Regions from separate parts of the Homo sapiens genome. Here regions 2, 3 and 4 are each linked to region 1. Evidence: fine-mapped QTL for protein levels in blood plasma. A gene starts in region 1. Each other region holds a variant in brackets. All regions are shown on one strand. Distances are from middle to middle.

The links. PIP is the posterior inclusion probability: the model's chance that the variant is causal. The UK Biobank Pharma Proteomics Project read protein levels with antibody pairs (Olink). The fine-mapping took linkage between variants from a reference panel, not from the people measured, so its PIPs are less certain.
Region 2: its variant is fine-mapped to the plasma level of the MIF protein (UK Biobank, PIP above 0.99).
Region 3: its variant is fine-mapped to the plasma level of the MIF protein (UK Biobank, PIP above 0.99).
Region 4: its variant is fine-mapped to the plasma level of the MIF protein (UK Biobank, PIP above 0.99).

Annotation. Positions count from the first base shown.
Region 1 is chr22:23,886,729-23,894,830 of GRCh38, forward strand. MIF (macrophage migration inhibitory factor) reads left to right here and starts at 7,655. Exons shown (of 3, transcript NM_002415.2): 1 at 7,655-7,854; 2 at 8,044-8,102. The coding sequence starts at 7,747. It overlaps MIF-AS1 (MIF antisense RNA 1), which reads right to left. Exons shown (of 3, transcript NR_038911.1): 3 at 6,982-8,102. RefSeq lists enhancers at 1,634-1,928, 7,330-8,102.
Region 2 is chr22:23,994,942-24,003,043 of GRCh38, forward strand. It overlaps GSTT4 (glutathione S-transferase theta 4), which reads right to left. Exons shown (of 5, transcript NM_001358664.2): 3 at 6,234-6,384; 4 at 5,134-5,310; 5 at 3,460-3,798. The coding sequence ends at 3,601. Among named protein-coding and RNA genes, the nearest start is that of GSTT4, 6.5 kb to the right of the region's middle. The variant G/A (reference allele first, on the strand shown) is at 4,115.
Region 3 is chr22:23,976,985-23,985,086 of GRCh38, forward strand. It overlaps a transcript of DDT not described here and the pseudogene GSTT2. Among named protein-coding and RNA genes, the nearest start is that of DDT, 6.6 kb to the left of the region's middle. The variant T/C (reference allele first, on the strand shown) is at 3,531.
Region 4 is chr22:23,947,182-23,955,283 of GRCh38, forward strand. No RefSeq gene overlaps it. Among named protein-coding and RNA genes, the nearest start is that of GSTT2B, 10 kb to the right of the region's middle. RefSeq lists enhancers at 4,477-5,168, 5,169-5,860, 8,095-8,102. The variant C/G (reference allele first, on the strand shown) is at 4,163.

The DNA.
Region 1 (8,102 bases):
TAAATGAATTGCTGGGCTTAATAATAAATGTATATTTAACTGTATAAAAATTGTTTTCCAAAGTGGTTGATTATATTGTTTCACATTCTCATTAATAATGTATGAGTTCTGGATACTCCAGATCCTCATCAGCACTTGGTATTGTCAGTCTCTTCAATTTAGCCATTCTAGTGAGTGTGTAGTGGTATCTTGTCATTTAATTGTGGTATTTCCCTAATGACTAATAATGTTTGACATCTTTTCATGTGCTCAGTATGGCCATTTGTGGGTTTTCTTTTATGAATAATTTGTTCAAATATTTTGTCTACTTTTTTTTGTTGTTGTTGTTGAGACAGGGTTCTCTGTCGCCCAGGCTGGAGGGCAGTGGAATGAACTCAGCTCATTGCAACCTCTGCCTCCTGGACTCAAGCGATCCTCCCACCTCAGCCCCCCAAGTAGGTGGGACCACAGGCGTGAGCCACCATGCCCTGCTAATTTTTGTATTTTTGGTAGAGATGGGATTTTGCCATGTTGGCCAGGCAAGTTTCAAACTCCTGACATCAAGTGATCCACCCACCTTGGCTTCCCAAAGTGCTGGGATTACAGGCATGAGCCACCGCACCCAGCCCTTATCTGCTATTTTTATCAGGTTGGTTGTCATTATTTTTTAAATGTGGGCATTTTTTATACATTCTGGAAGCTAGTACTTTGTTAAATATATAGTATTGTAAATATTTTCCTGCAGTCCGTAGCTTGCCTTTTTTATTTTCTTAATGCTACCTAAGAGCAGAATTTTTTTTTTTTTTTTTTTTTTGGAGATGGAATCTCGCTCTGTCACCCAGGCTGGAGTGCAGTGGCGCGATCTCGGCTCACTGCAGCCCTGCCTCCTGGGTTTAAGCAATTCTCCTGCCTCAACCTCCTGAGTAGCTGGGACTACAGGCACGTGCTGCCATGCTCTGCTCATTTTTTTGTATTTTTAGTAGAGACGGGGTTTCACCATGTTGGCCAGGATGGTCTTGATCTCCTGACCTCGTGACCTGCTCGCCTCGGCCTCCCAAAGTGCTGGGATTACAGGCGTGAGCCACCTGGCCCGGCCGAACAGAAATTTTTATTTTGGTAAAGTTTGATTTATCAGTTTTTGGTTTTTGTGATTCATGCTTTTTGTGCCATAAGATATCTTTGCCTATCCCAATGTTGCAAAGATTTTCTTCCAAATGTTGGATAGTTTTAGCTTTTACACTTATGTTGCTGATGATGAATTTCAAGTTAATTTTTGGGTATGGTGTGAGGGGCTGAGGTTCCTTTTTTTTGGGTGGGTGGGGGGAACAGGGTCTCACTGTGTGTTGCCTAGACTGGAGTGCAAGTGACGTGATCTCAGCTCACTGCAACCTCTACCTTCCAGACTCAAGCAATCCTCCCACCTCAGCCTCCTAAGTAGCTGGGACTACAGATGCGTGCCACCATGCCTGGCTAATTTTTTTTTTTTTTTTTTTGAGATGGAGTCTTGCTCTTTCGCCCAGGCAGGACTGCAGTGGCACTATCTCGGCTCACTGCAACCTCTGCCTCCCGGGTTCACGCCATTCTCTTGCCTCAGCCTCCCGAGTAGCTGGGACTGCAGGCGCCCGCCACCGCGCCCGGCTAGCCTGGCTAATTTTTGTTTTGTTTTGTTTTATTGTTTTTCTTTGTTTTTTTGTAGAGACAGGCTTTTGCCATGTTGTTCAGACTGTTCCTGAACTCATGGACTCAAGCCGTTCGTTTGCCAAAGTGCTGGGATTACAGGAATGAGTCACCATGACTGGCCCTTTTTTCTTTTCTTTCTTTTTTTTTGAAATGGCTATCTGGTCGTACCAGTACCATTTGCTTTAAAAAAAGCCATTTTTTCTTCATTATTTTACTTTGGTGCCTAAATAAAGAAAATCAGTGGACTATTGTTGTATAAGAAAGAATTTGGCTTTTGTCAGGAAACAGTGACTGTTAAAGAGAAGTGGTGGGGCTGTGGGTTCTCTGGGGAGAGAGAAATCTCTGGGTCAGGGTGTCAGTAGAGGTCTCAGGGAGAAGGTGACTCTGAGCTGGCTTCCTAAGGATAGGCTCAGCTGGGGGCCTTTTAAAAGCTAGAGCCTTGGTGGCATGTGCCTGTAGTCCCAGCTACTTGGGAGGCTGAGGTGGGAGGATCTCTGGAGCCCAAGAGTTGGAGATTACAGTGAGCTATGATTGCACCAGTGCACTCCAGCCTGGGCCACAGAGCGAGGCCTTGTTTCTACCAAAAAAAGAAAAAAAAAAAAAAAAAAGCTGGAGCCACTGGGAGGCAGCAGCGTTGCAGGATGGGAATGAAGCTACCGTGTCCAGTCACTGTGGAGTCTTCAGGAGGCAGGGGCAGCCCTCCCAGGAGCCCTGTGTGTGGTCACTCTGCCCCTCTGTGTCCATCCACCCTGATCCTGCCTCTGTTGACCTGCTCCCCAGCTTACCTTTGTGCTCCAAATGGCTTCCCTGGCCGCCCTGGCTGCAGACCTCCAACGTGGAGTCATGAGTAAGAATCCATTGACAAGCACCCCTGAGATCCTGGGGTACGTGCCACGAGCAGAGCAGGCATCAGGTGACACCCAGGTCCCGGCCTGCCTCGGACACACATGGTGCCCCGGTCCCCAGCCTGAGCCCTGCCCTCTCACTCACCACCCACCCAGCCGGAATTGGCTCTGGCCACTCTGGGAGGGCGGGGTGGGGGTTGCAAGTCCCTTGTTACGCAGGGAGCCCCTCAGTTAGGGAGAGGAGACAGGGTCTCAGGACAGGACCTTGAAGACAAGGAAGGGCAGTGCAGAGAGGGGTGAGAGAGCCAGACTGGGTTTCTAGGGGGTGGTCCAGGGTGGGAGCTGACCTGCCTCTGCTGAGACTGCGTTCCAGGTGTGAGCATTGATGTCTAGCCCATGTAGCTGGAGAGGAGTCACAGCCATGCTCCCCAGCTCCAGCCCACCTCCCCAGACCCCAGACCCAGTGTGGCCTCTCCCCACCTCCCAGAGCATGTGGTCAAGCCCCTCTCCTAGCCCGAATCCCTCCCTCATTTGCTAATTACCAGGACCTACATGTCCCAGCTTCCCAGGGCCAGGGGACAGGGCCCCGCCCATCTGGCAGGCTCAAGTTGGCTGCCTGGCTGCCGGGATCCAGGCGGCGCTCACAAGGATCTGGGCTTGCACAGCCTCCAAAGGGCTGTTGTCCATTCTCTTGTATTTGTTCTCATCCTCTCCTTTCTTGGACCCTCTGAGTCTCTGGTTCCCTCTTGTTGGGACCCAGATCACTCTGTGCCTCAGCTGAATCATTTTTCCCTTCAGTTTACACATATCCACCTAGGGTCCACTACATCCAGAGGCTTCCGCCTCAGTCCTTGTCCTCAGGCTGTGCCCAGGGTTGTGAGGATGGCGGTGGTCCTTACCTTGCAAAACAGTCTCCCAGTGACAACAATGTTCAGGGATAACATCTATGGAGGGCTTTCTATGTATCAGGACCATTCTGAGTATCTTCCAAGTGTTAGCTCCTTTAATCCTGGAAAGGACCCCATGAAATTAGTACTTTTATTACCCCTGTTGTACATATGAGAGACTGAGTAAAAGCCGGTGGCTTGTCCAGGGTCACACAGCTAACTGGAATGGCCAGGAGTAGACCTGGTGACCATGGACCCCAGACCTTGATCACTGCACACGCTGCGTCTGGGACCTCGCCTGGTACCTGAGGTCCGTGGCGCGCTGGTGCTGATCATTCAGAGTGCTCATGGGAAGTGTAGTCTAGAGTCTGTGTGCTTCCTGATCTCCTTGATCTCCATTTTATTGAGGAGGCCTTTAGGCCACCCGAGGGGTCCAGAGTGACCCTGTGGATTAGCAGTGGAGCTCAGCTTGAGCCAGCGCTCTTCAGGGGTCGTGTTCTGCCCCCATTCTCTGGTTCATTCTGCAGGTAGCAGGGAATCATTGAAGATTAGAGAGAATCAAACACCTGGAGAGAGATGACTCTGCCCGGGGAGCCCAGGCTCCTGTCTGGGTGCACACTCCAGGGCTAGATGGTGACTTCTCAGCTACTCTAGCTTCATAGGCTCATAGTGCATGTGAGCACTCATGTGGACACACGTGCACGCGCACACACATGGACACACACACACACACACACACCGCTGTCTTTGGAATCAGACCATGAAAATGCTTCCTCAGAGGCCTAGGGGTGAGGAAGCTGAGGTGAGTTGTGCCTCCAGCTGGATGTGCTGGGATGGGGTGGGAGATGAGGTGGCCACACCTGGGTGGCAGGAACTCTGGGGCAGTGAACCTTCTAACGAACAGATCTGGGATGCTGCCATGAGGAGGAAGAGGGAGTCAGCAGCCATGCCTGCCAATGCCTCCTAGCGCATTTGTCCATGGTTAGCGGATAATTATTGTGTCCCTATGGGTCCCAAGGTGTATTATTTTTTTTTTGCTCTTATAATAAATCAACACAAATTTTTAGCAGCTTCAAACAACACGCATTTATTATCTCACAGTTTCTGTGGGTCAGTAGTCCGGCGTGACATGACTAGGTCTTCTGTGTAAGGACTCGCATGGCCAAAGTCAAGGTATCTGAAGGGACAAGGGAAAAATCCACTTCCAAGTTCAATCTGGTTGTGAGCAGAATTCAGTTCCTTGTGGTTGTACCATGAGGTCTCTGGTCCCCTTCATCTTCAAAGCCGGTAATGGACATCGAGTGTTTCTCTTGCTTGGAATCTGGCACTCTAGCTGGAGAAAATTATCTGCTTTTAAGAGTTCATGTGATTAGATTGGGTGTACCCAGATGCTCCATGCTAATCTCCCTATTATGCACAGATGCATAATCCTAATTGCATCTGTGAAGTGCTTTTTGCCAGGTAACATGGCATACTTGTAGGTTCCAGGGATTAGTGCTTGTCCTCCCCCTGCTATTCTTTAGTGGGCAGGGGGTCATCTGCCTACCACGGAGGTAAGGGGTCAGGAGGTATGCATACAGCAATGCCCAAAAAGAGACTGTCCCCACTGGGATGGAGTTTACCGCCTAGACATGCAGTCTTAACTCAGAAATATGGAGATAGCCTCGAAGGACAGGACAGGTACTGGGCACGTGTGGGAATGGACCAAGCCAGGTGCTCCGGGGGCTTTCCCAAGGAACTAAGGCTGAGCCAAGAACTGAAGGATGAGTTGGAGTCAGATGAGGGAAAATGTGGGCAAACTGGATTTCAGAACCAACCCCCAACCCTGGAGCCAGGAGCCATGGTACTGAAGGACAGTGCGCCATAACTCAGAGAACCAGGGAGGGTTGGCGGAGGCTCACAGGGACCGGGTTACCCCAGGGCCTTGTGACAGTACTACCCCTAGTATCAGAGGAGACTGTCATTGGCATTTAGGCCACTTGGTGCTCATAACACCTCTATGTCAGGTGAACACTATTGTCATCCCCAAATTACAGATGGGGAAAGTGAGCCAAATGTCCATGCTAGTAAGAGGCAAATCATATCACTTCTTTGGGTACCCTTCTAGAAGGATGAGGCTGACTGCCACTGGAAACAGCTGGGGAGGGTACAAGGAGATGACAAGTGGCTCAGAGGCTGTCCTGGCTATAAGAATTAAAGAGGAAAGAAACACCAAGGGTGGCTCGACAGTCAACAAGGACAGGTTTATTTTGGAAAACAAACTTGAGAGGGGCTTCTGGCCAAGTTAGGTCAGAGCCACACTCTCTTACAAACTAAGGATATTTAAGGGTTTTGGAGGGGGTTCTTATCATAGGTTCTGAATGTTTCTGTGTGAGGGAAAGTTTATTGCGGGGATGGAATGTCTCTGGTCAGAAGGGAGGCTGTCTCCGGGTTGGCATGTTTCTGGTCAGAGAAGGGTTTATCTTAGGGTTGGAATGTTTCTGGTTATGCTGACATTAGCTATTAGGCTGATATTTTCGGGCTGGATTTAGGCGGCTTTTAATTAAGGGGGAACTTAGAATGGTGGTGTTTGTTCAAGATGGCAATGCTCCTGCTCCGTCACTGGCCAGGTAAGGCAACCCTTTGTTATGGTAACAACCTGAGATTGGCAGGGGCTCACCTCCAGGGGCAGCTCATGTGCTTGCTGGCGAGGCTGCACCTTGTCATTCAGGTTCACAGGGCACAGGTCAACCAGGCCCTGGCTCTTCAGTCTTCTGCCTGGAGTGACTTATGTAATTCTGCTCAGCTTTCATAGGGCACAGGGAGTCGGGGCTAACTCTGCTGCCTGGGGCTGGAAACAGACTCCTCCCTTGAGGAGCAGCAGTCCACCATAGGGAAGTCACAGTGGTCCAGGCCAAAGGGGATGCAGGTAGTGTAGACTAGGCGGTAGTTCAGGGAATGGAGAGAAGTGGGAATAAAGGGATAGTGAAAGGAAGCATATTTTACTGGCAGGTGATGAGGTGTAGGAGGACAAGTCATACATTTGGACTTTACAGAGCAGTGGACACTCAGTCAGCTGCTGTCAGCGCCTGGGACTTAGGGGAGTGCCCCTGGCTGGAGACATGGTATGGAGTGCCATCAGTTAGGGAGCCCTGGGCACAGGTAAGAGAAGGTGTGACACCAGGAGGGAAAGAGTCTGGGGCCCAGCTGCAGGAACCAATACCCATAGGCTATTTGTATAAATGGGCCATGGGGCCTCCCAGCTGGAGGCTGGCTGGTGCCACGAGGGTCCCACAGGCATGGGTGTCCTTCCTATATCACATGGCCTTCACTGAGACTGGTATATGGATTGCACCTATCAGAGACCAAGGACAGGACCTCCCTGGAAATCTCTGAGGACCTGGCCTGTGATCCAGTTGCTGCCTTGTCCTCTTCCTGCTATGTCATGGCTTATCTTCTTTCACCCATTCATTCATTCATTCATTCAGCAGTATTAGTCAATGTCTCTTGTATGCCTGGCACCTGCTAGATGGTCCCCGAGTTTACCATTAGTGGAAAAGACATTTAAGAAATTCACCAAGGGCTCTATGAGAGGCCATACACGGTGGACCTGACTAGGGTGTGGCTTCCCTGAGGAGCTGAAGTTGCCCAGAGGCCCAGAGAAGGGGAGCTGAGCACGTTTGAACCACTGAACCTGCTCTGGACCTCGCCTCCTTCCCTTCGGTGCCTCCCAGCATCCTATCCTCTTTAAAGAGCAGGGGTTCAGGGAAGTTCCCTGGATGGTGATTCGCAGGGGCAGCTCCCCTCTCACCTGCCGCGATGACTACCCCGCCCCATCTCAAACACACAAGCTCACGCATGCGGGACTGGAGCCCTTGAGGACATGTGGCCCAAAGACAGGAGGTACAGGGGCTCAGTGCGTGCAGTGGAATGAACTGGGCTTCATCTCTGGAAGGGTAAGGGGCCATCTTCCGGGTTCACCGCCGCATCCCCACCCCCGGCACAGCGCCTCCTGGCGACTAACATCGGTGACTTAGTGAAAGGACTAAGAAAGACCCGAGGCGAGGCCGGAACAGGCCGATTTCTAGCCGCCAAGTGGAGAACAGGTTGGAGCGGTGCGCCGGGCTTAGCGGCGGTTGCTGGAGGAACGGGCGGAGTCGCCCAGGGTCCTGCCCTGCGGGGGTCGAGCCGAGGCAGGCGGTGACTTCCCCACTCGGGGCGGAGCCGCAGCCTCGCGGGGGCGGGGCCTGGCGCCGGCGGTGGCGTCACAAAAGGCGGGACCACAGTGGTGTCCGAGAAGTCAGGCACGTAGCTCAGCGGCGGCCGCGGCGCGTGCGTCTGTGCCTCTGCGCGGGTCTCCTGGTCCTTCTGCCATCATGCCGATGTTCATCGTAAACACCAACGTGCCCCGCGCCTCCGTGCCGGACGGGTTCCTCTCCGAGCTCACCCAGCAGCTGGCGCAGGCCACCGGCAAGCCCCCCCAGGTTTGCCGGGAGGGGACAGGAAGAGGGGGGTGCCCACCGGACGAGGGGTTCCGCGCTGGGAGCTGGGGAGGCGACTCCTGAACGGAGCTGGGGGGCGGGGCGGGGGGAGGACGGTGGCTCGGGCCCGAAGTGGACGTTCGGGGCCCGACGAGGTCGCTGGGGCGGGCTGACCGCGCCCTTTCCTCGCAGTACATCGCGGTGCACGTGGTCCCGGACCAGCTCATGGCCTTCGGCGGCTCCAGCGAGCC
Region 2 (8,102 bases), 110 kb after region 1:
AACAAGGTAAGAGATGTAAAATTGCATGTTAGTTATCAGATAGATTTGTGTTCCCATCTAGCTCCAATGAGGGAGAGGATTTGCTCTAGTCTGTCCCTCTGGGCTCTGGGCTTCTAATGGGCAGACAGCTTCCTCCATGATGTTTGTAGCTGTTAAGGCTGGCGTAGTCCCTCAAGACAAGTTTTTTTTTTGTTTGTTTGTTTTTTTTTTGAGTCAGAGTATCGCTCTGTCACCAGGCTGGAGTACAGTGGTGCGATCTTGGCTCACTGCAATCTCTGCTTCCCGGATTCAAGCGATTCTCCTGCCTCAGCCTCCTGAGTAGCTGGGATTACAGGCATACGCCACCACACCCAGCTAATTTTAAGACAAGCTTTTGGAATTGAACTGCTGATGGTCTTCCATGAACAATTCAACAGAAACCCAGTAGCGTACACTTCCTTGTATGCACTTGCACCCTCTCTTTACATTTATTACACATTTAATGCTACCTAATAATTCCCTATACTTTTACTTTATCCAATCGTTCAACAGATTCCAACCGAAATACATAGAAGAGTGATATTCCAACTTCATCAGACCCTGAGATTCTATTTTTAACATTTCTTCCATGGATTGTTGAATGTTTCCAATGATTGATCCACCTTCCCTTGGCCTTTTCTACATTACAGATTTGGTGGCATGTCCATGTCTATGTTGCCAAACTTGCCTCATAGACCCAGCTTGAACACAAGATGGGTGCTTGCTGAAGAGCAGGACTCATTCTGTTGAACCTGCATGTTTTCTCAGGTCAGATTGCTTGGTGGCGCTTCTTTAATTTCTTTCAACAGCACATTGTAGTTTGCTGTGTTGAAATGTTGCTTTTCTTTGGTTAAATTTATTCTATTTTATTCTTTTTGATGGTATTATAAATGGAAGTGTGGTTTTAATTTTGTTTTTCATCCTTTATTGCAAATGTATACTATTGATTTTTGTGTATTAATCTTGTACCCTGCAACCTTGCTGAACTTATTTTATTTTATTGAGATGGAGTCTCAGTCAGTCACCCAGGCTGGAGTGCAGTGGCTTGATCTTGGCACACTGCAACCTCCACCTCCTGGGCTCTGGTGATTCTCCTGCCTTTGCCTCCTGAGTAGCTGGGACTACAGGCATGCGCCACCACGCCCGGCTAATTTTTGTATTTTTAGTAGAGACGGGGTTTCACCATATTGGACAGGCTGGTCTCAAACTTCTGACCTCATGATCTGCCCGCCTTGGCCTCCCAAAGTGCTGGGATTACAGGTGTGAGCCACCGTGCCCAGCCTTGAACTTGTTTATTAGCTCTAATGGTTTTTAAGTGAGTTAAGAATTTCTGTAATGTCATCTGTGAATAGAGATGGTTTTACTTCTTTCTTTCTGATCTAGATTCCACCTTGTTCCTTTTTCTTGCCTAATTGCCCTAATAAGTAGAAGTAGTGTGAATGAACATTCTTGTCCTGTTCCTGATCTTAGGGGGGAAACGCTTGATCTTTCACAATGGATGAAGTATGGTGTTAGTTATAGGTTTTTCATAGATGCTTTTTGTCAAGTTGAGGAAGTTCCTTTCTCGTCTTCATCTGCTGAGTAATTTTATCGTAAAAGGATGTTAGGTTTTGTCAAATGCCTTCTGTGCATTAGGATGATCATGTGACTTTCTATTAACATGGTATGCTACACTGATTGATTTTTGTATGTTGAACTGCATTTGTACTCCTGGGATAAATCCTACCTGGTCAAGGTGTATGATCCTTTTAATATGCTGCTGGATTTGATTTGCTAATATTTTGCTGAGGATTTTTACATCTATATTTATAAGGATATTGCTTTGTAACTTTATTTTCTTGTAATGTCTTTTTCTGTCTTTGGTATCAGAGTAATTCTGGCCTCATAGTATGAGTTGAAAAATATTTCTTCCTGTTTTATTTTTTTGGAAGAGTTTGTGAAGGCTTTGTGTTAGTTCTTCAAGCTTTTGGTTGAATTCACCAGGGAAGCCATCTGGTCCTGGGCTTTTCTTTGTGGAATTTTTAAAAATAATTAATATTTTAATCTCTTTATTTGTTACAGGCCTATTAAAATTTTATCTTTCTTCTTAAGTCAGTTTTGGTAGATTGTGTGTTTCTAAAATTTTCCCATTTCATCTAGGTTGTCTAAATTGTCCACATATAGTTATTCATAGTATTTCTAAACTTTTGAATTTCTCTATGACCAATGTGATGTCTCCATTTTCTTTCTTTCTGGTTTCCATTTCATTTTTTCATTTTTGTTTTTGTTTGTTTTTTGAGATAAGGTTCTTCTATGTGCCCAGGCTGGAGTGCAGTGGTGCAATCATAGCTCGGTGTAACCTTGAACTCTTGGACTCGAGTGATCCTCCCACCTCGGCCACCCAGTTAGCTAAGACTACAGGCTTGCACCACCACACCAAGCTAATTTTTTTAAAAAATATATTTTTTAGAAAAAAGTCTCATTGTGTTACCCAGGCTGTTCTCAATCTCCTGGCCTCAAGTGATCCTTCTGCCTCTGCTTTCCAAAGTGCTGGGATTGCAGGTGTGAGCCATTGCACCCAGCCTCCACTTTCTTTCTTGGTGAATAATTTGACCCTTATTTTTTTCACTTGGCTATTCTAAGTAAAGGTTTGCCAATTTTGTTGATCTTTGCAAAGATCCAATTTTTGGTTTTATTGATTTTATTGCTTTTCTATTTTCTATTTCATTTATCTCCATTCTAATCTTTATTATTTCCTGTTTTCTAGTGGTGTTGGGTTGAGTTTGCTCTTATTTTTCTAGTTCCTTAAGGTGTAAAGTTAGGTTATTGATTCAAGATCATTCTTCTTTAACTTATGTGTTTACAGCTATAAATTTTGCTCTTAGAACTGCTTCTGCTGCATCCTATAAATCTGGGCATGTTGTGTTTTCATTTTTATTTGTTCAGGATACTTTTTGATGTCCCTTGTGATTTCTTCTTTAACCCATTTGTTGTTTAAGAGTGTGCTGTTTAATTTCTATGTGCTTGTGAGTTTTCTAGTTTTCCTTCTGTTCTTGATTTTTAACTTTATTCCACTGTGTCCAGAGAACATACTTTGTGTGATTTCAATCATCTTAAATTTGAGACTTAGGACCAAATATATGCTCTATACTGGAGAATATTCCATGTGCTCTTTAGAAGAATGCTTATTCTGCTCCTGTCGGGTGGAACGTTCTGTTCATGTCTAGTGTATGCGATTGGTTAATCGTGCTTTTCAAATTCCCTATTTCCTTGATGGTCTTCTGTAGTTTTTCTATTACTGAAAGTGGGGTATTGAAGTCACCAACTATTATTACTCACAATGTAACCATATTTAACCCTTTACTTTTAAAATTCTTTTTGGAAACTGGAAGGATCTGTAACCACCACCCACTCCCACATCAGACCCTATGCATATGCCAACTGTCTGCTGCTCAGCAGCTGTGATGGTTGTTCCAGTTCTTTATTAGGCAAAGAACAGTTGTTTTTTTGTTTTTTTGTTTTTTTTTTTTTAACATTTCCTTTAAGGAAGGTGGCTCAGATTGCTAAGCCAGCCAGGCCCTGCGGGACAGGCTGCGCCTAGGGTCACCTGCTCTTCTTCAGCAACTCAGAAATATTCTCCTTGACCATTGAATCCAATGTTGAAAAGTCCCAGTCGGCCAACTGCATTAGTCGATCATGGGCCTCCCTAAAGAGGCCAGAGCCAATATTCAGCTCCACCTGCATACGCCACTCAGCTAGCTTGGAGCTGTTGAGGAAGACATTATAGTTGGCTGCCATGGGCTGTAGATAGACGAAGACAAAGACGTGGTCAGCCTGGGGACCAGCCCCACCTGGGTCCTCTCCCACAGCCTCAGGCCCACGTCCCTAACATCTACCTATGCAAAGAATTAGGCTGCTGACCCCCAAGGCCTGAGCAAGGGGTCACAGACTATGTAATAGATGTAGGTGGGGATGGAGGATCCAGAATCCCTCAGAGTCCTCAGTCACTGGTCTTCTTGCTCCAAGCCTTCTGAACCATGCTGAGAGGGCTCCTGGCCCAGGCACTTCCCACTTCTCCAGCCTGCGACCTCGCATGAATCCTGCCTTCTTCCAGGGA[G/A]ACCCCTTATCCCAGGTGTGTATATGTGGATGAGGGAGAGAACTCAGGTTTTTTCCTCCATGTTTAGCCTCCCACTGTGATCAAGCTCAGGGGCTAGGATGGGAGACCTGGCGGGCAGTCTACCCTGCAGTTTCGCTGGCTTACTAAGAGTTTGGTTTGCACCCAAGATCTTTGGGAAGCCCAAGAATGGGTGTGTGTGGGTGAAATGTAAGGGGTGGGGACGAAGCATATGGCTGAACCCTTGGGGCAGGCCAGAATGATTTTTCCTGGTGCTGGTCTGCCCTGCAAACAGACCAAGGAGACTAATTTTCATATCAGCCAGAGATCTCTGGGATAAGGAAAAGAATACTGCATTTTCTGGTCAATCCACCAGGACCCCAGGTCCCTCCTCTCGGGCATATCTCTGGCTGATATGCAAATTAGTCTCTTTGGTCAGTGTGCAGTGCCCTAGCTGGTGTGCAGGATGGCCAGTTGAGACCCTGGCCAGTGTCTTGACAAGCAGAACTGGTCACCCTCCCCTGCATGTAGAGGCCACATAAATGCCCCACACTCAGGTGTGCCTCCAAATGCACAGTGGATGCCCCTCAGACCCAGCCACGAGAGCTGTCCTCCAGAGCTGTCTGTCTGGAGCTCTGGGAAACAGGCAGGGCCAGAAGGACACCCAGGAAGCCAGTGAACATTTCCTGGAGAGTCCAGCAAGAGGAGGAGGTATCTGGGATGCCGGTGGATTGAGCAGGAAATGCAGTGTTCTTCTCTATCCCAGGCTCACCCTCCGGGTCCTCCCACACCGAAGAATCTTTGTCAAGTGTGGAGAACTGTGATCCTTCCTGATTCATAACATTCTGTGCTTCCTGTTGCCCCGATTGAGTCCAGGCCCCCAGGCCTGGTTCCCGCAGCCCCCATGGCAGCTCTGCCTGCCTTTCCCGCCTCACCAGCCTATCCTCAAGTGATGGCCCCATTGGTCACAGAGGAGTCCTACCTCTGCCCAGGGTCTAACCCTCCTCCAATCCACTCCACACCTGCATCATCTCCACCACGGCCACCAGGTCAGCCAGTGAGATTTGGTTCCCGGTGATGAACATCTTATCCTGCAGAAAATACTCCTCAAAGAGCTGCAGGCTGTTCTTCACCTCTTCCACTGCATGCTCCATCTTCTCAGCTGAAACTTCCTCCCCTGTTATCTTTGGGATCAGCAACTGGCCAGGGTTGGGAAGAGGAGGGAAGAGGAGGCTGCACTCCAGGGCCACCTGCCCTGCCAGGTCTCTGTACTCTTGTCTGCTGGATAGATATTGAACACTTCCCAGGATATAAAGCAGTTTCACCTCTTTTAGCAGTTCTGATTGGTGGAAGTTGCTGGGAACCATGTGTTCACAAGGATTTGGGGAGCTCAGCAGGCATAAGTCCTGTGATTGATTAGTGATGTCTGTCACAGGCATAGAATTCAAAGTAGAGACACATGTACTGGTTATTTGTCATCTTCTAATTTTCTATAGGCCATACTCTTTTTTGTTTTTGTTTTTTGAGATGGAGTCTCACTCTGTCGCCCAGGCTGGAGTGCAGTGGCACAATCTTGGCTCACTGCCAACTCCAACTCCTGGGTTCAAGCAATTGTCCTGCCTCAGCGTCCTGAGTAGCTGGGATTACAGGTGCCCATCACCACACCCAGCTAATAATTTTGTATTTTTAGTAGAGATGGTGTTTCACAATGTTGGCAAGGTAGGTCTTGAACTCCTGACCTCAAGTGATCTGCCCGCCTCGGCCTCCCAAAGTACTGGGATTACAGTTGTGAGCCACCGTACCCGGCCTTCTGTGGGCCTTTTGACGCTGAGATTCTCTAGTTCAGAATGAAATGCCTCGAATGCTGTCCTGGGTGAGTCACATCAGCCCCTCCCGTATGCCCTTCCCCTCGCCCTAATAAGACTCTTTCATGCCCATTGTTTCAGTCCACACTCCTGACGGCTCTGTAAGGCGGGCAGGAGAAGGAGCTGAGGAAATGAGGCCCAGAGAGGGAGGGAGACTTGCTTGAGGTCGCCGGCAGTCAGCAGGGCCAGAACTGGCCTCCAGCCTTCCTGACTTCCCTGTGCCCGTGTCCCCAAGCCCCAGAAGTGGCCCTGCTCACCTTGAGCCAGACTATCTTCTTCATGGGCAGCTGAAAGGCCGTGTGTTGCCAAGCCACGAACTCATCCACACGGGCACGTGCGTGCGGGTCTGGCGGGCACCAGTGCGATGGTGCGCTGTACTTGCGGCACAGGTAGTAAAGGATGGCCGCGCTGCAGAAGGGGCCGGTCAGGGGCACTGCCCTTGCCTTCCTGAGTGCCACTACATCAACCACCCCGGTGTGGCCTGGGCCCAACTGCTGGGGCTTCCAGAGCAAAGAGGAGCCCAAACGGCCCCGAGAAAGACCTTCACCAGAGCTGTCTGTCTGACAGTCAGTAAGGGCTGGGAAGGAGCCCTGCGGGGTGAGTAGGAGTTGGGGGCTGGTGGTATAACAAAGAGTAGGCCAGCAGGGGGAACAACACGTGTTGAATTGGGATGCTGAGGTGGGAGGATCACTTGATCCCAGGAATTTGGGGCTACTGTGAGCCAAGATCACACCACTGCACTCCAGCTTGGGTGAAAGATCAAGATCCTTTTTCAAAAACAAAAACGGGGGGGCACGATGGCTCACACCTGTAATCCCGGCACTTTGGGAGGCCAATGGGGGCAGATCCCTTGAGGCCAGGAGTTGGAGACCAGCCTGGCCAACATGGTGAAACCCTGTCTCTACTAAAATGAAAATACAAAAATTAGCTAGTTGTGGTGGCACACACCTGTAATCCCAGCTACTTGGGAAGCTGAGGCACGGGAGTCACTTGAACCTGGGAGGCAGAGGTTGTAGTGAGCCAAGATTGTGCCACTGTACTCCAGCCTGGGCCACAGAGCAAGACTCTGTCTCAAAAAACCAACAAAGAAAAACACATGCTGAAATACGAGGGTAAAGGGAGCAAGGTAAATCTGAAGAAAAGAGAGTAGGGGGTTGCAACTGGAAGAAGGGTGGGGGTGATTGGGGAGTGATGAGGCAGCCAGAGACACTGTGGAGTCCACGTAGGGTAGCCCCTGGAGGTGCAGGGAGGTTATGGACTTAATGCTTAAGATTAGGCATTATATAAGCCAGGGCATGAAAGGATCCATCTCTCTGGTGCTGGATGGAGGGTGAGCCCGAGGGGGCAGAATGGACAATGAGGGGGCCAGCAACTATCGGGAAGGTTGTGGTGTCTGGGAATGTTGGAGGCCATGGGGACAGAGGGAAGGGGATGGAGGGGAGACATGCTTCGGAGGGGATGTCCTAGGCCTTGCTGATTGATGGCTGGTGTGGGAACCTCCGCAGAACAAGGGCTCCTTTATCATCACCAGCAGCAACCATGCCAAGGTAAAAAGGTCAGGGCATGGAGAGAGCTATCGGTTAAAAAGTGGCAGGAGAGACAGCAACTGGCTGCAAGACTCAGAACTTCTTGGCTGGGCACGGTGGCTCACGCCTGTAATCCCAGCACTCTGGGAGGCCGAGGCGGGGGGATCATGGGGTCAGGAGATCGAGACCATCCTGGTTAACACAGTGAAACCCCGTCTCTACTAAAAATACAAAAAAATTAGCCAGGCATGGTGGCGGGCACCTGTAGTCCCAGCTACTCAGGAGGCTGAGGCAGGAGAATGGCGTGAACCCGGGAGGCGGAGCTTGCAGTGAGCCAAGATAGCGCCACTGCACTCCAGCCTGGGCAACAGAGCGAGACTCCGTCTCAAAAAAAAAAAAAAAAAAAACTTCTTTGGATCCTGATCCAAACAAACTGCCAAGAAAATGTTTAGGAGATAATCATAGAGTTTTGAACAGGAGCCACATATTAGATGAAATCCAGGAATTATTGTTAATTTTATGAGGTATCTTAATGGTATCGTAGTGATGCTACGCTCTATCCTAGCCCAGGCTGGAGTGCAGTGGCGCAATCAGAGTTCA
Region 3 (8,102 bases), 90 kb after region 1:
CCCGCACTGCAGCCTCCACGTGTTGGGCACCATGCTGCCACCGTGGGTCTGCTTTCAAAGACTCAGCAGCCAGCACTGATGGGCTAGGGGAAGACAGAGTCAGCGGAGGGGCTGGGCATAGCCAAGTGTAAGGCAGCATGACCTGCTTTAGGGGTTCTCTGATTGGATTTTCCCTCCTCCACCATGTGTGTGATGGGCTAGGATGTCCCCCTCCCTGGGGACACTTGGAAGCCTCTTAATATAGCTGCGGTGAGGGGTTTGTAAAGCCCCATTTTATAGATGAGGACACTGAGGCTCAGAAGGAGAAGTGACTCACACAGGGTCCCACAGCCAGAAAAGACAACATGAGCTGGGATGTCAGCTCCCTTCCCGGATACACCACTGCCCAGCGGGCCACCGCACCCCATGGCACTCTCATGCCTCAGCTCCGTGATTGCCACCAAGCCAGCCACAGAGATACGGGGCCCAGTAAGGAAGGCCTGGTCCCGCAGGAACTTGTCCTCGAGCAGCTGCAGGCATCCGTCCAGCTCAGCCAAAGTGGCCGCCAACATCTCGGGTGGCACTGACTCGCCCAGGAACACAGGGATTATTATCTGGTGGGCCGACAGGCAGAGAGAGGGGTCAGGGTCTGCCCAAAGCCCATCCTGGTTCCCACCATCATCCTATCATCACCAGTCCTTGGGATTTCTGCTCACCTCTGCTCACTTCTTTCCACTCATAGCCACCAGTAGCTCTCATCTCCTACTCAAACAGGGACAGCCTCCCCCTTCTCCCTGGGTCCTCACACAAGGCAACCAGTGGGATCCTTCTGTAATCTCAATCTGCCCGTACCCTCTCTTGCATAAAGCCTTCCATGGCTCCCCACTGCCCTCATGAGAAAGGCCTCAACACAAAGCCAGCCTTCTCCAGTGCGGTAGCCATCCCCTCCCCACTTTTCACCTCACCTCCTACTACCCCCCACTTATCAAACGGGAATGTGTGTATGAATCCTCCCTGGAATCTGGTTACAGTTTATGCTCCCAATCAGTAAGGTCAGAGTGGGGCCTGAGCCTCTGCATTTCCAACAAGCTCCCTGGTGATGCTGATACTCCCAGTCCATTGACCACACTTTGGATAGGAAGAGTCTACACTTGCTCTACTCAACTTCTCTCCATTCTGTCCTCAAACACACCACGCTTCCTTCCCCACCAGCTGGAGGGGGCTCTGCTCCCAGGCCCCAGAGGTCAAGGCAGACACAGTTAAGGTGTGGAAACCTCCTTATTGCCCGATGGATCCTCCAGAGAGGCGGTCCCTTACTTTCAGCAGGGCGCGTGTCTACCTGTTTCATGCTGTCTCACACACAGGGTGCCACCCCTGTGCTGGGCACTGGGTAAGTGCTCTGTACATATTAATTAGGAGTACTCATTTCAAAAATATGTGTGCCTTTGATAAATAAAAACAGTATGTGCATGTTGTGTTGGTGTGTGCTTCCTTGATTATTACTGAAGTTAAACATGTTTTCATCCATGTATTGACCATTTCTCTTTGTCCTTCAATGAAACCTCTGCTGATTTCCTTCGCTCATTTTTTTCCTGTGTCTTCGTCTGATGAGTTTCTCTTCTTTTTGTTTGTTCGTTTGTTTGTTTTGAGACAGTCTCGCTCAGTGGCCCGGCTGGAGTGCAGTGGTATGATCTCAGCTCACTGAAACCTCTGCCTCCAAGGTTCAAGTGATTCTCCTGTCTCAGCCTCCCGAGTGTGCCACCGCACCCAGCTAATTTTTGTATTTTTAGTAGAGACGGGGCTTCACCGTGTTGCCCAGGCTGGTCTCAAACTCCTGACCTCAACTGATCCGCCCATCTCTGCCTCCCAAAGTACAGGGATTACAGGCGTGAACCACCACACCCTACCTGTCTGATGGGTTTCTAAGAACATCTTAAAGGACATTACTTCCTTCTGACGTATCTTTTACCGAGATCCTTCCCAGTTTTTTGCTTAAGGTTAATCCATTTTTTCCTCCACAAAGTAACCTTGTATATGTATTGGTTTTTTCTTTGTTGAGTTCTCCCACTGTTCTGAGGCTTAGAAAGTCCTTTCATACCCAGACATCAGAGAAACAGATCCCGTGAGAGTAACTGGGATTGCAGGTGTGGGCCAGCATGCCCTGTTATCACTCCCTTTCTCTGAGTCAGCTTTTCTCTCTCAGTCTCGTCTACTCCTCGAACTCAGGAAATGTCACTACAGGTGGCCCCAGCTCCCGTTTACCTCCCCATAGGGAGCTCCTCTCTCCAGTTCCAGTTTCAAAACTCCCAAGGAAGCATTCTGGTTCACTCGCTTGGGCCACTGGCCAGAGGGATGGGATACTCTGAAAGATTCAGCTAGAGTCCCGGGCCCAGCCCTGGACCATCACTGTGCCCCCTGGTGAGATGCCAGGGCTGGGATTCAGGGAGAAGAAAGGAGGTTCCCGGACAGTCATTCCTGCCTCCCGCGGCTGCGGGCTCCCTGCCCCCATCCTGTGCACGAAGTGGGAGCTCCCGCTGTCTGGCAGCTCCCGCTGTCTGGCAGCAGCTGCTCTGCAGGGGACAGTCTGGACGGCAGAAAGTTCATCCTTAACCCCAGCCTTCCAGTCAAGGTTCCCACCAGTTTGGGACACCTGCAAGTGTCACATCCCACTGGGTGAAACTCTAAGATCCCTTTTAGGGGATCCCATTCGCTCCCTCCCTTCCGCCACCATGCAGCGCCGAGAAACAGAGCTCTGAACGAACCCTCAGATGTCCGTGCGCTGGGGCCTTTCCAGGACGGCGGCGCCCAGTCGTTTCTGGGTCAGGGCGACGCCTGGAACTGGGCAGGGTCCCTGGCACCGGGATCCCGAAAAGCAGACCTGCTTCTCCCTGTCCAGCCGGTTCCCCTTCCCCTTGCAGTCGGCCCCCTGCATCCGCGTCCTCCCTGCCAGTCGAGGGTCCCCAGCTCCAACTCCACCCTCCCAGCTGTGCGTTCATAGCGACCGCCCTCCCTGTAGGGACGCACGGATCTGGTGGTGGAGTCTTGGCCGGCAGGACTGGACAGGAACCGAAGGGGCGAGGCGGGTCCGGGGGTGGTGCGCTCCAATTGGGTGCTGTCCCCAGGGGGTGGGGCCTGATCCCCTATTTCCCGGCGCGCCGGGATCCTGCCACAGCTGCTGCCCACACCGCGCTCAGCGCCTTCACTGCCATCCCCGCTGTCCTTGCCGCCCCCGCCATGGGCCTAGAGCTGTTTCTTGACCTGGTGTCCCAGCCCAGCCGCGCCGTCTACATCTTCGCCAAGAAGAATGGCATCCCCTTAGAGCTGCGCACCGTGGATTTGGTCAAAGGTGGGCCCAGCCCGTTTCCCCGCGTGTCCACAAACCCAGTGCACCCCCAGGCCCCCGCCCTGCTCTGCCCTGAGCGTCTCGCCGCCCGCACAGCCCCCTCACCTCCTCCTGCAGCGTCTGCCACCAGAGAATGCTGTGGACTGAGTGGCCTTGAAGGGATCACAGCCTCTCTGAACCTTAGCTTGCCTTCTGAAAAGGAGGATAA[T/C]GTTACCTTCTGCTCTGTAGGGATGGAAAGAAAATACTGAATGGAGTTGACAGAGTTCTTGCGTGGAATGCACGCATATAAATTCACAAAGCCCAGAAGACCTCGGGAAGAAGGACATACTGTTGTGAGAATTAAGAGATGGGAAGAGATGAGCCACCCCAGTTTGCCTCCCCTCCCCTGGCCCACCAGAGTCCGGCTAGAAAACTTCTCTTTATCCACCTGCTGCACCTGGCCCCACCCACCAAAACCCCCCAGCTGCCCCGGAATGTGGCAGGGCAGGGAGGCCCAGCCAGGGAGTGAGGCTGATCCAGGCCTCTAGTCCCAGACCTTGCTGTTTCTCAGGGCTGTGGGGCTCCGCTTGGGGAGGAGGAGGGAGGGTGTAGAGGTGCAGCGTTTTTACTCTGAAGACCTTTTCTGACTTCTTCTTCTTCAGGGCAGCACAAGAGCAAGGAGTTCTTGCAGATCAACAGCCTGGGGAAACTGCCGACGCTCAAGGATGGTGATTTCATCTTGACCGAAAGATGCCCTCCTTCCCTCACCCCTCACCGCATCCGGAGCCCATGTGACCTTGGCTCTCCCCACTGGCCCCGGGCCCCAATGGCCCTCCCATACCCCATGGGGCAGCGAGGGAGGGGAAAGGCGAGGGATCTGGCCGGGCGCGGTGGCTCACGCCTGTCATCCCGGCACTTCGGGAGGCCAAGGCGGGCGGATCACGAGGTCAGGAGACCGAGACCATCCTGGCTAACACCGTGAAACACCGTCTCTACTAAAAATGGAAAAAAAAATTAACCGGGCGTGGTGGCGGGCGTCTGTAGTCCCAGCTACTCTGGAGGCTGAGGCAGGAGAATGGTGTGAACCCAGGAGGCGGAGCTTGCAGTGTGCTGAGATCGCGCCACTGCACTCCAGCCTGGGCGACAGAGCTAGACTCCGTCTCAAAAAGGCCGGGCGCGGTGGTTTACGCCTGTAATCCCAGCACTTTGGGAGGCCGAGGTGGGCGGATCACGAGGTCAGGAGATCGAGACCATCCTGGCTAACACGGTGAAACCCTGTCTCTACTAAAAATACAAAACATTAGCAGGGCGTGGTGGCGGCCGCCTGTAGTCCCAGCTACTGGGGAGGCTGAGGCAGGAGAATGGCGTGAACTCAGGAGGCGGAGCTTGCAATGAGCAGAGGTCGCGCCACTGCACTCCAGCCTGGGTGACAGAGGGAGCCCACTCCAGCCTGGGCGACAGAGGGAGACTCCGTCTCAAAAAAAAAGGAAAGAAAGAAAGGAGAGGTATCTGGGGAGAAGGTACAGCTTGGGGTGTGTCCGGGATGAGCAGGGGCTGACAGAACATGTCCCCCCACCTCTCATCTTCAGCCTTTTCTGAGCCGCAGGGCCTCTCCACTCCCAGACTGAAGGGTATTAGAAGAGAAGACAAGGGAACATTTTTCCACTGTTGCGCATTTGTTCAACAAATGCTAGCTGAAAAGAGCCTCTAGTGACTTGTCGCAGACTACCCAATCTACCCAGGCCGGGCCTAGAGGCCAATGCCATGGCCCAAGGGCACAGCTCATGGTGAGGTCCAGCTGCTGGGCAGGAAAAGGACAAGAGGTCAGGTGGCTGCAGAGGTGATGGCTGGGGGCCTGTCAGACGGGGGCCAAAGACATTCCTCCCCTCGTGATCCCTGACCCAAGCGCGTGGACATGCAAGGGACTCCACGGAGCATCCACTGTGTGCCAGCCCCATGCAGGGTTCCAGGGGTCCAGGGAGCCTATTCTGAGCTGCACCGCCTCGGACAAGTCACTTGACCATTCTGACCTTGAGTTTTCTCTTGTGCTAAAAGGCTAACAGGAGTGTCTACCTCACAGGGCGGCTGCTGGCATATCACAGAGATGAGGTTCTCAAAATGCAAAGCAGAAGGTCCAGCCAAGAGTCGGTGCCCAAGGCAACAAAGACAGGAGGAGACTCGTAGGAGGAGGGGGTGGTGTTGGGGAGCTGGAGATGGAGGGCGAGGCTGGAGGGCAGTCCTTCAAATGCAGAGAAGCCCCCGGGCCCCACTGGCAGATGGGAGCAGTTAGGGGTAAATGCCTGGTGCCAGTGTCCTTATAGCCACTGCCCATTTGTTCCCAGCTCGGCCATCCTGATTTACCTGAGCTGTAAGTACCAGACGCCGGACCACTGGTATCCATCTGACCTGCAGGCTCGTGCCCGTGTTCATGAGTACCTGGGCTGGCATGCCGACTGCATCCGTGGCACCTTTGGTATACCCCTGTGGGTCCAGGTGAGGAGAGCCATCTGGAGAGTGATTGGCCATCAGGGAGTAGTTGGCAGTAGGCCGGGGCCATAGACTGACCCACTCTCTGCCCCCATCAGATGTTGGGGCCACTCATTGGGGTCCAGGTGCCCGAGGAGAAGGTGGAACGCAACAGGACTGCCATGGACCAGGCCCTGCAATGGCTGGAGGACAAGTTCCTGGGGGACAGGCCCTTCCTCGCTGGCCAGCAGGTGACACTGGCTGATCTCATGGCCCTGGAGGAGCTGATGCAGGTGTGAGCTCAGCCTGTGGGCAGTGTCCCTCTTCGTGTCACACCCATGAGGCAGACAGAAACACTGAGGCCTGGAGAAAGCCAGAACTTTGCCCAGAATCATAGAGCAAGTCTCTGGATGATCTGGGGCCAGAACCCTGAACTTCTGCCTCCTGCCTGGGTGTGGGGTCTCACCCTGGCTGCTCTTGGGCTCTAAGGCTGAACATACTGCCTGGGCCCCTGTGGTCCATTCACTTAGGGGCTGGGGAATGGACCATGTCTCTGATACTTCTGCCCATGGTTCCAGCATTCGGGTCGGCAGTGACAACTGGGAAAGTTGTATGCCCACAACTTTTTCATCCTTGTCCCTACAGCCGGTGGCTCTCGGCTATGAACTGTTTGAGGGACGGCCACGACTGGCAGCATGGCGTGGATGAGTGGAGGCTTTCCTGGGTGCTGAGCTATGCCAGGAGGCCCACAGCATCATCTTGAGCATCCTGGAACAGGCGGCCAAGAAAACCCTCCCAACACCCTCACCAGAGGCCTATCAGGCTATGCTGCTTCGAATCGCCAGGATCCCCTGAAGGGTCTGGGATGGGGGCCAGGAGATTAGCAACAAGGATTCATTCTGTTACTTACTTGCCCCTTTTTATCTTTCCCTCTTGCCCCAGTCCCTTCTCTCCAGCTTCATGTGAAGCTCTGCACAGACAAGACACTCAGTGTCCTTGGCAGTGCTGCTACTCCTCAGGTGCAGCATACATAACCAGTAAGAGACTAAATCTGCAATATATAAAGAGCTCCTACAAATCAGTAACATGAAGAACACTCAAAAATTGGCAAATGTCATCAGTGTTTTAAACAGAATAAAGATTCCAAACACTTTGAATAGAGAACCAAGAGTTATTGGTTTTACTACATTGTTGTGTTATACATATGGAGTAAAAGTATGTGCTAGTAATCCTCATCATGGTTAATAACAAAGTAACCTCACAATAACGAGTCAACATAATTGTATCACCAGGGCAACAAAATGTTAAGTAAGTAACCAATTCGAATTGCAAACTGTTAAAGGATATAGGCGATGTTTCACAGGGCATAGCAACGGTCTTTGAAGTCTAGGAAACTTAAAAGATTTCTTTTAACAAGCATTCATGTCTTCTAGGACAGTTTTGTAATAACTGCAAATAGTAAGATTATACATTGTCACACAGACCTCCATGTATATCCATGGGATGGACCCCACCACAATGATTTTAACGGAGAGAACTTGATATAAAGAATTGGTAACCAGGCATTAGAGAACTCCGAAGACAGAGAGAATCCAGATTAACACGGAGGTAAACACTGCAAGAAGCTACCACCCCTAGGGCTGGGGGATCAAGGGAGGAATTAGGAAGACCAAGATGCTGGAGGGGCCCTGAAGAATTCAAACCTCCAAGAAAGGTGTTGCTCATCCCCCCTAGCATCACCTTCCAAGAAGGGCAGGTTTCCCCAGTTTGCCCTGAGGTCTTCACAGGAGGCCATGTGGCTGTGGATGCAGTTCTCAAATGTGACAGTAGATGTCACTGCTGACCAATAAACAGGATGTTCCAGACACACACTGCGCTACCTGCCCACATGTCTTGTGGCTTTGGGGCCTATTTCCCATGCCTGACCTGTGCCCACCATGTGCCACTCTATTGGGGGACCTGCCCCAATAATCACGTAGATTGTTTCCTATTTTTCCTAAGTGTCGGCCGGCTTGAGAAATAAAGGGACAGAGTACAAAAGAGAGAAATTGTAAAGCTGTGCATCCGGGGGAGACGTCACACGTTGGTAGGATCTGTGATGCCCCACAAGCCACAAAAACCAGCAAGTTTTTATTAGGGATTTTCAAAAGGGGAGGGAGTGTGCAAATAGGTGTGAGTGACAGACATCAAGTACTTAACAGGGTAATAGAATATCACAAGGCAAGTGGAGGCAGGGCGAGATCACAGGATCACAGGACCGAGGCAAAATTAAAATTGCTAATGAAGTTTCGGGCACCATTGTCATTGATAACATCTTATCAGGAGACAGGGTTTT
Region 4 (8,102 bases), 60 kb after region 1:
AAATTGTGGCTCTTTTTATTCTGAAGTGTAGAAATTGAATATTATAGCTCAAAATATAAAACAAAAACAAAGAAAGCTAAAAGCCCTTCCATTTGGCCATCTTGGAGTAAGACCTACCACAGTCCAGTGCCTTTTACTCAGCCCCACAGCCTAGCCTATTGTTTACATGAAACCCTGTAGCTTCCACTCCTGTTTGGTGGGTGTAAAGTTATGAGTGACCATATTGGGGGAAGGGAGGAAAACTCCCCATAAACGTGTATCCTGGGGGCCTAAGGAGAGACGATGGCCCAGGTATCAGAACATGATATGCCTACTTGTCCCTATCTCCTTGTCCACACATAAGGCTTGGAAGGCAGCCATGTTGTATATCACGTGATCTCCAACCAATGAGCTGATTGGCTTCTTCAACAAGAGCCCAGGTAGAGATTGGTGTCTAGAGGAGCCCATCAGATTCTAGAGAATCAGGCCTTTGGCAGTGGAAACTCCCCTGGGAGGATGTCATAGGGTCCTCAGGGTCAGACACAGAGAGAAGGAGACATTGGGACAGAGAGAAGAGGCAAGAAAAAAACATATCTTGCAGTCTGTGAGGAACAGAGTGGCCCCCAGGGGCCTCCACCTCAGGTTCTGGATCAAAGCTCCTCAAAGTTTAAGGTGCATTTGGATCACCTGAGGATCTTATGAAAATAAACTCTGTCTGATTCAGTAGGTCTGGGTTTGGGGGTGGGAGCCTGTTAGTATATTTCTAACAAGCTCCCAGGCAAGGCTGCTACTGCTGCTGATCTAATGACCACAGTTTGAGGCTGGACAGAGTGGCTCACACCTGTAATCCCAACACTTTGGGAGGACAAGGCAGGAGGGTCTCTTGAGGGTAGAACTTTGAGACCAGCCTGGGCAACACAGCAGGACCTCGTCTCTAAAAAACAAGAGAGAAGAAGAAAAAGGAAACAACAAGAAGACTCAACTAGAGTAGGAAGCAGTTAGGCCACATATCTCTTCAATGGAGAAAAGAGCTTTTTCTTGAGTAAATTGGAGTGTACCCATGTTCCTTGTCAATGATGGTAACTTTAAATGTCAAGAATGTGAGAGAGGCCAGGGGTGGTGGATCACACCTATAATCCCAGCACTGTGGGGGGCTGAGGTGGGAGGATCACTTGAGCCAAGGAATTCGGGAGCACCCTGGGAAACAAAGTGCGACCCCGTCTCTACAAAGTCAAAAAATTAGCCCAGACTGGTGGCATGCGCATGTGGTCTGAGCTACATGGGAGGGTGAGGCAGAAGGATTGTTTGAGCCCAGGTTGAGGCTGCAGTAAGCTAAGTTTGTACCACTGCACTCATTCCAGCCTGGGCAACAGCAAGACCCTGTCTCGAAAAAAAAAAAAAAAAAAGAATAGTAGAGCCCAGGGGAAGGTGTGGCCCTGGGGTAGGCGCTGGGAGACTGGAGAACAACTGTTAGTGGTCCCATCACTGCCCAGAGCAGACAGTGCCCTGTCCACCCTCATGAGATCTTTGAACTCCTTGGACAGGACTGGCTATAAATGAAAATGTGGGGACCCTTATTTTTAACTTGTTAAGAATGTTAAGATGGCAACAGCAAAGCTTTAAACCAAGTGCATGGCCCTTCTGCGTTGTAGGCCCACAAGGCCGACACTGCTATTCACATCCTTGTATGGTCCCCTACCCTGGAGCGTGGCTGGGGCCTGTGCTCTACTGCTTGGAAGCAAGGCTTATCCCTAAGCCTTATTTTCGGGAAGGTGGATTTGAGAGCTACTATCCCACATCCTTGCTTGGTGCCCTGTGAATAAATCTTTTCTCTTTTGCAAAACTCGTGTCATGGTGATTAATTTACTGTGCAATGCCAGGCACTGTTGGAAACCTCTGGATAGGCCTCACAGGGCCTCAGCCATCTCGGGGAGGCGTTAGCTAGAGTGTAACAAATATGACCCCAGCAACTGGGGAGGGACAGCTCATTCCTTCATGAGGTGTGGGGCTGGCAGCCCCGCAGGCAGTCAGCCACCCTTCCTCTCTGGCCTCCGTCCTGGGCACTGGGCCCAGGCACTGGGCAAGGAGGCTGCTGCACCTCCTTTCTCCTCTTCCTTTTTTTTTATTTTTTGAGACGGAGTATGGCTCTGCCGCCCAGGCTGGAGTGCAGTGGCGTGAGCTCGGCTCACTGCAAGCTCCGCCTCCCGGGTTCACGCCATTCTCCTGCCCCAGCCTCCCGAGTAGCTGGGACTACAGGCGCCCGCCACCCCGCCCGGCTAATTTTTTGTATTTTTAGTAGAGACGGGTTTCACCGTTTTAGCCAGTATGGTCTCGATCTCCTGACCTCGTGATCCGCCCCCCTCGGTATCCCAAAGTGCTGGGATTACAGGCGTGAGCCACCGCGCCCAGCCTCTCCTCTTCCCTTTTAGTGGGAAATATACCTGCAGCCTAGATTCCCAGAAAGGGGTGGTGAGAGAGCAGACACGCCACTGATTGACCCGAAGTTCTAGGAGCCAAGGGATGAGTGAAGAGGGCGTGGCCGGACTCGGGGCTCCTGGTGAGGTGCACCGCTGCAGGCTCGGTGACCCAGCAGTTCCTGCCCAACCCTCACCTACCCCCAGCCGTTCCTGTCCGCCGCCCCCAACCAGCCATTCCTGCCCGCAGTTCCTGTTCCCGGGCCTGTCCCCGGGTTTGTCCCCAGGGCCCGTCCCCTGGGTTTAGGTCTGCCCTCCCACGCCCCACCCCATTGCCCCCGCCATGGGTCTGCTGTCCCAGCCCTGCCGTTCAGTCTACATCTTCGCCAAGAATGGCATCCCCTTCGAGCTTCGCACAGTGGAGCTGACCAAAGCTGGGCTGGGCAGGCAGGCCCAGGGGATATTGGCCGCGGATCCCTGCCTGTCCCCGCTGCTTTGCAGTTGGGCCAAGAATGCAGACTAACACGAAGAATCAGACTCTCCGGTGTGGAAACTATTACATAATTATCTATGTTATTATTTTTACTTTTTGGAGACAGCATCTAACTCTGTCACTCAGGCTGGAGTGCAGTGGCACAATCATGGCTCACTGCAGCCTCGACCTTCCAGGCTTAAGCGATCCTCCCGCCTCAGCCCCTCAAGTAGCTGGGACTACAGGTGCCCACCGACATGCCTGGCCAATTTATTATTATTATTATTATTGAGAGGAGGTCTTGCTGTGTTTCCGAGGCTGGCCTAGAACTCCTGGGCTCAAGTGATCCTCTTGCCTTGGCCTCCCAAAGTGTTGGGATTACAAGCATGAGCCGCCATGCCCCACTGGTTGTCTATTTTAATAGAGGCTTGATCTTTGCTTGTGAATACAAAACATTCTTCAAAATACAGGTTTAGAGAGGGCACAGCAGGCACAGAACGAGGGTAGGGAAATGGAGTGGGGCAAGAATATCTTCACCCCATGTGCTTGGAAAAAACAATGAAACTGCCTCGTTGTTTCCTAAGTAAAATAGTCCCTGTCTACCCCTGCCTGTGTCTCTTCCACTTTTGTATTATTTGTTTGTTTATTTATTTATTTATTTATTTATTTATTTATTTATTTATTTATTACAGTGTCTCAATCTGCAGCCCAGGCTAGAGGGCAGTGGCATGATCCCGGCTCACTGCAGCCTTGACCTCTCAGGATCAAGTGATCCTCCCAACTTACTCCTCCTAAGTAGAATAGTTGGGACTACAGGCACGTCCCCGTGCCCAGCTACTTTTTTCTTTGGTGTGTGTAGACGCATGATTTTGCCATGTAGACCAGGCTGACCTTGAACTCCTGAGCTCAAGTGATCCTCCTGCCTCCTCCTTCTAAAGTGTTGAGATCACAGACATGCACCACCATGTCTGGCCCTGGGTCTCTTCCACTTTTATGTATTTCTTGGCATTCTTCTGCCTTTTCCTTTTCCTGCATCTGACTTGCTCTATCCCATGGGGCTTCTCACCCAGCTGAAGGGGCTACTCCTAGAGGCTAGAGGCTGGAGGGCCCTGTGGCAGGGCAGTGGGGGAGGCCAGCACCCTCACCCTGAGCTCCAGCGTTTGCTGGTCTGGCTGGCATACAGAGATGCAGCTGGAGCACAATTCAGTGGAGGAGGCAGGGCTATAACTAAGCAGTAGGGCAGAGAGCAGAGCCAGAGCCCCCTGGGCAGGCCAGAGGGAGGACCCTGCTCAGCTGA[C/G]TCTTCCCAACTGCTGCCCTTGGTACAACCAGCTTGAGTCACCTGCTACAGAACAGGGGCTGGACACAGAAGCAGTCTGTGGAGGGAGAATGGGCAGGGGTGTGTATGTCCATTCAGTAGAAGGGCAAAGAGGCCCACATGTAGGCCTATGATCAGACTGGAGCCTGGCTTGACTGAGGTCCTCTGATCCAAACACCAGGCACCTAATGCGGCCTCTAGCACTGGCCTAGAGTGCTAAAGTGAGTCAGACCTGGGAACCCCCACTGGGGAGGGAGCCTTGAGAGTTTGGCATAAGAAAGCAAGAAGAGCTGAGCCACCGGAGGCTAAGTAGCTGAATGGGGCAGGGATTCCCAGCAAGAATGAGGTTGGTCTGAGGGTTGGGAACATGTTTGGCTGGGACTCTGGGGTATTGACAGGTCACCCAGCCTGGCCAGTAGGGCCTAAGTCCCCAGCTGGGATAGGAAGCTGAATCAGAGGGGGCAAGCCTAGAGCCCAGGGAGGAGGCTGGAGGGGTCTGACCTATGGATGGAACTGGCTGGGGGTGGGGTGTGAATTACAGCTCCAGGGAATTGTCCTTGAGCCATGCTTCAAGGAGCTGGACACAGGAAAGATGGCCCTCTGATGGGGTCAAGGTCTGTGACCCAGTGACTAGCAGAGAGGCTTCCTCTTCCCTGATGCCTCCCAGATAGGGGCCTCAGAAAGCTGCTGCTGGGATTTTGGGGTGGGGGTGGGCAGAGACCTCAGAGAACTCTGGGTTATCCCCACTCACCTCTCTGATCTTTCCTGCAGGCCAGCAGCACAGCGATGCCTTTGCCCAGGTGAACCCCCTGAGGAAGGTGCCGGGCCTTGAAGGATGGGGACTTCACCTTGGCTGAGAGGTAACCGGTCCGTGGGCTGCTGCCGGGCCTTGTGGGGCCAGTCGGCTGTCTGTTCACTGTTGATGGCTTGGATCATGGACTGTGGGCCCTGCACCAGCCCCAGGGTGAAGAATGGGTGGAGGCAGGCAGAGGTGCCCAGTGTTGACAAGGGTTATAGAAGTCCCCTCCTGCATTGTACAAGTGAGGAAACTGAGGCTGGAGGAGGGGAGGGACTTGCACAAGGCCACAGGGCCCAGTCTGCTTCCGGGCCTCCTCACCGCCAGCCTTCCCCTCCGAAAAAAGGAGAGTGCTAAGTTTCGAGGAGCGGCTGTACCAGGCATCTTAGTGCTACCATTTTGCCCACAAATCCTGTGGGGCAAGTGCTGTTTCCCTGGAGAGTCGAGGGACCACTCAGCGAGCTTCAGTGGCTATTTGCTAAACATCCACCAGGGCCAGACCCCATTTAAGCCCTGGGGCTTGAGCAGTGAACGTGTCTGCGTCCTTCTCCTCATGGATCTCACATTCCATTAATAGAAGGGGGAGCTGACAGTAACCCATGTAAACATGGAACATATCGGATGTTGATGGATGCCATGGAAAAAATAAACAGGGTAAGAGTGGGGGTGTGTGTCATTATGAGTAGGATGCTGAGGGAAGACTCCCTGGAGGAGGTGGCATCTGAGCAGGGAGCTGTAGGAATGTGCAAGGCATGAGGAGAAGGGTGTTCTCACTGGAGGGAAGAGTGAGGGCGAAGGCTCCAGGTGGGACAATGCATGGGGTTCAGACTGGAGAGCAACGGGCCAGGGTGGGTGCAGTGAGCAGGAAGAGCAGGAGGTCACGACAGAGGGGAGCATGGGACACTGGGAAGGCTTTGGCTCTTACCGCAGGTGGATTGAGTTGTTGGAGAGTTTTGAGCAGAGGAGAACTGTGATCTGACTTACGTCGTAAAGGATCCCCCTGGCAGGGGTGAGAAAGCCACTGCAGTCATCTGGCATGCAGCGCTGGAGCCCCAGACCAAGGTGGTGGTGGTGCAGGGTTGCGGGGGATTGTGGTCAGTTCTGACTTTTATTGAAATCTAACTGCAGGGTTTGCTGAAGGGTTGGAGGTGGGTGGGAAAAATGAAAGCCAAAACCAGCCTCCAGGTTGGTGGCCGCATGGTGGCGTCCTTTACCGAGGCCACATAGTGCCTCCTTGGTGGAGCTGGATTCACATTCAGAGCCTGGGATCACTGGATGGTCCAACACCCATAAAGGCATGATGAGCTCTGAGGGTCAGACTGCACAACCCTTCACCATAGGTGAACGGGAGTTGGGACAGGGTGGGAAGCAATGCTGCCATGTCACCTGGAAGGCTCTGTCCCTGCTGGCCTTGCTCCTGGCCCTGTCCACACTTTGGATATGTTGGGGAGATATCCAACATGCTCTCGTTCTTCAGACTCACACTGGGTGCCCCTTCCTCCTGGAAGCCTTCCCTGAGCCCCTGCTGAAGTTCATGACATTTTGTTTCTTCCTTGCTGCCCTTAGTTGAGATGACAGTCTGGCCCCGTGTAGGGCTGTGTGACCCTGGGTAGTTACCTAACCTCTCTGAGCCTCACATCCCTCCTCTGCATCATGGGGATAGTGAAAATGCCCCAGAAAACGGTTGAAGAGTGTTCAGGGCATGTCTTCTGCCCCTGCCATGTCCCCCCAGTGTGGCTAGCTTGCTCTATATGAGCTGCATGTACAAAGCACCTGACCACTGGTACCTCCAGGACCTGCAGGCCCGCGCCCATGGGGATCAGTACCTGTCATGGCAGCACATGGCCCTGCAGAGTAGCTGCTGCTGGGCCATGTGGCAGACGGTGAGCCATGGAGGGCAGGGACACCTCCCGGGATGCCCAAGGGATGCTGCTTTCACTTTACAAAATTCTGTTTAGACCTGAGACCAAATCCTGGAATGCCAGAGACTGCCTAATTCACCCAACTTGTTTCATAGGAGGGAAACCAAGGACCAGAGCCAAGGAAGGATTCCCCTAATGTGCCTTAATTCCACAGCTACCACCTGCACACTTACACTCACACACTGTTCGACACACAGCCACACTCACACACACATCCACCCACGTCCACCCACAGTCACACGATGTATCACATTCACACGTATACACCCACACACACAATCATAACATTTACACACAGTCACACAGTTAACTCCTATACACACATATACACCCACACAATCACACAACTCACTCATATTCAACAAAGTCACACAACTCACTCACATTGACACACATACACACCAACCCCACACACAATTCACATACATACACACACATATACACCCACATACACAACCACACCATTCACTGACATTAATACAAAGTCATCACACAGTTCACTCCCACACACACACATACACCTCACACACACAGGCACACAATTCACACCAACAAAATCACACAGTTCACTCATTCACACACATACACCCACATACACAAATTCACACTGCTCAGTCACATTTACACACCATTCAAATTCACACACATATACACCTACATACACACAGTTCACTCACATCACACACATATACACCCACATACACACAGTTCACTCACATCACACACATATACACCCACACATAAACACAGTCACACAATTCACTCACGTTCACACACACAGTTCACTGACATTCGCACACATACACACACACCACACACAGGCAATTCAGTCACATGGCCGAAAGCCAGTCCTTACCTTCCTATAGTTCCTTTCCCAGTGTCACCTCAGCCTTTGGCCCTCAGCGTCCCCTTCCCATGCCTGGACTGCGGAAGAGCCCTGAACACACCCCATCTTCATGCCTCCAGCGCTAGCCCGAGCCCTTCCCTCTGCCAAGAGCACTAAGTGCAACTCAAGATCACTTCTAGGGACCCTTCCCTGCCCCTGCTGCCAGGTGACCTGAGGATCCTGCTGGTCCCGCTTGACAATGATGCACAGCATGGTTAGTTCAGCTGAGGTCGCTCTCCCAGACTTACTGCCACCTACACAGCACTAGGACTGACTGTTTAACTTTATTCTTTATTTCGTGTACTTTATTGGAGTGTC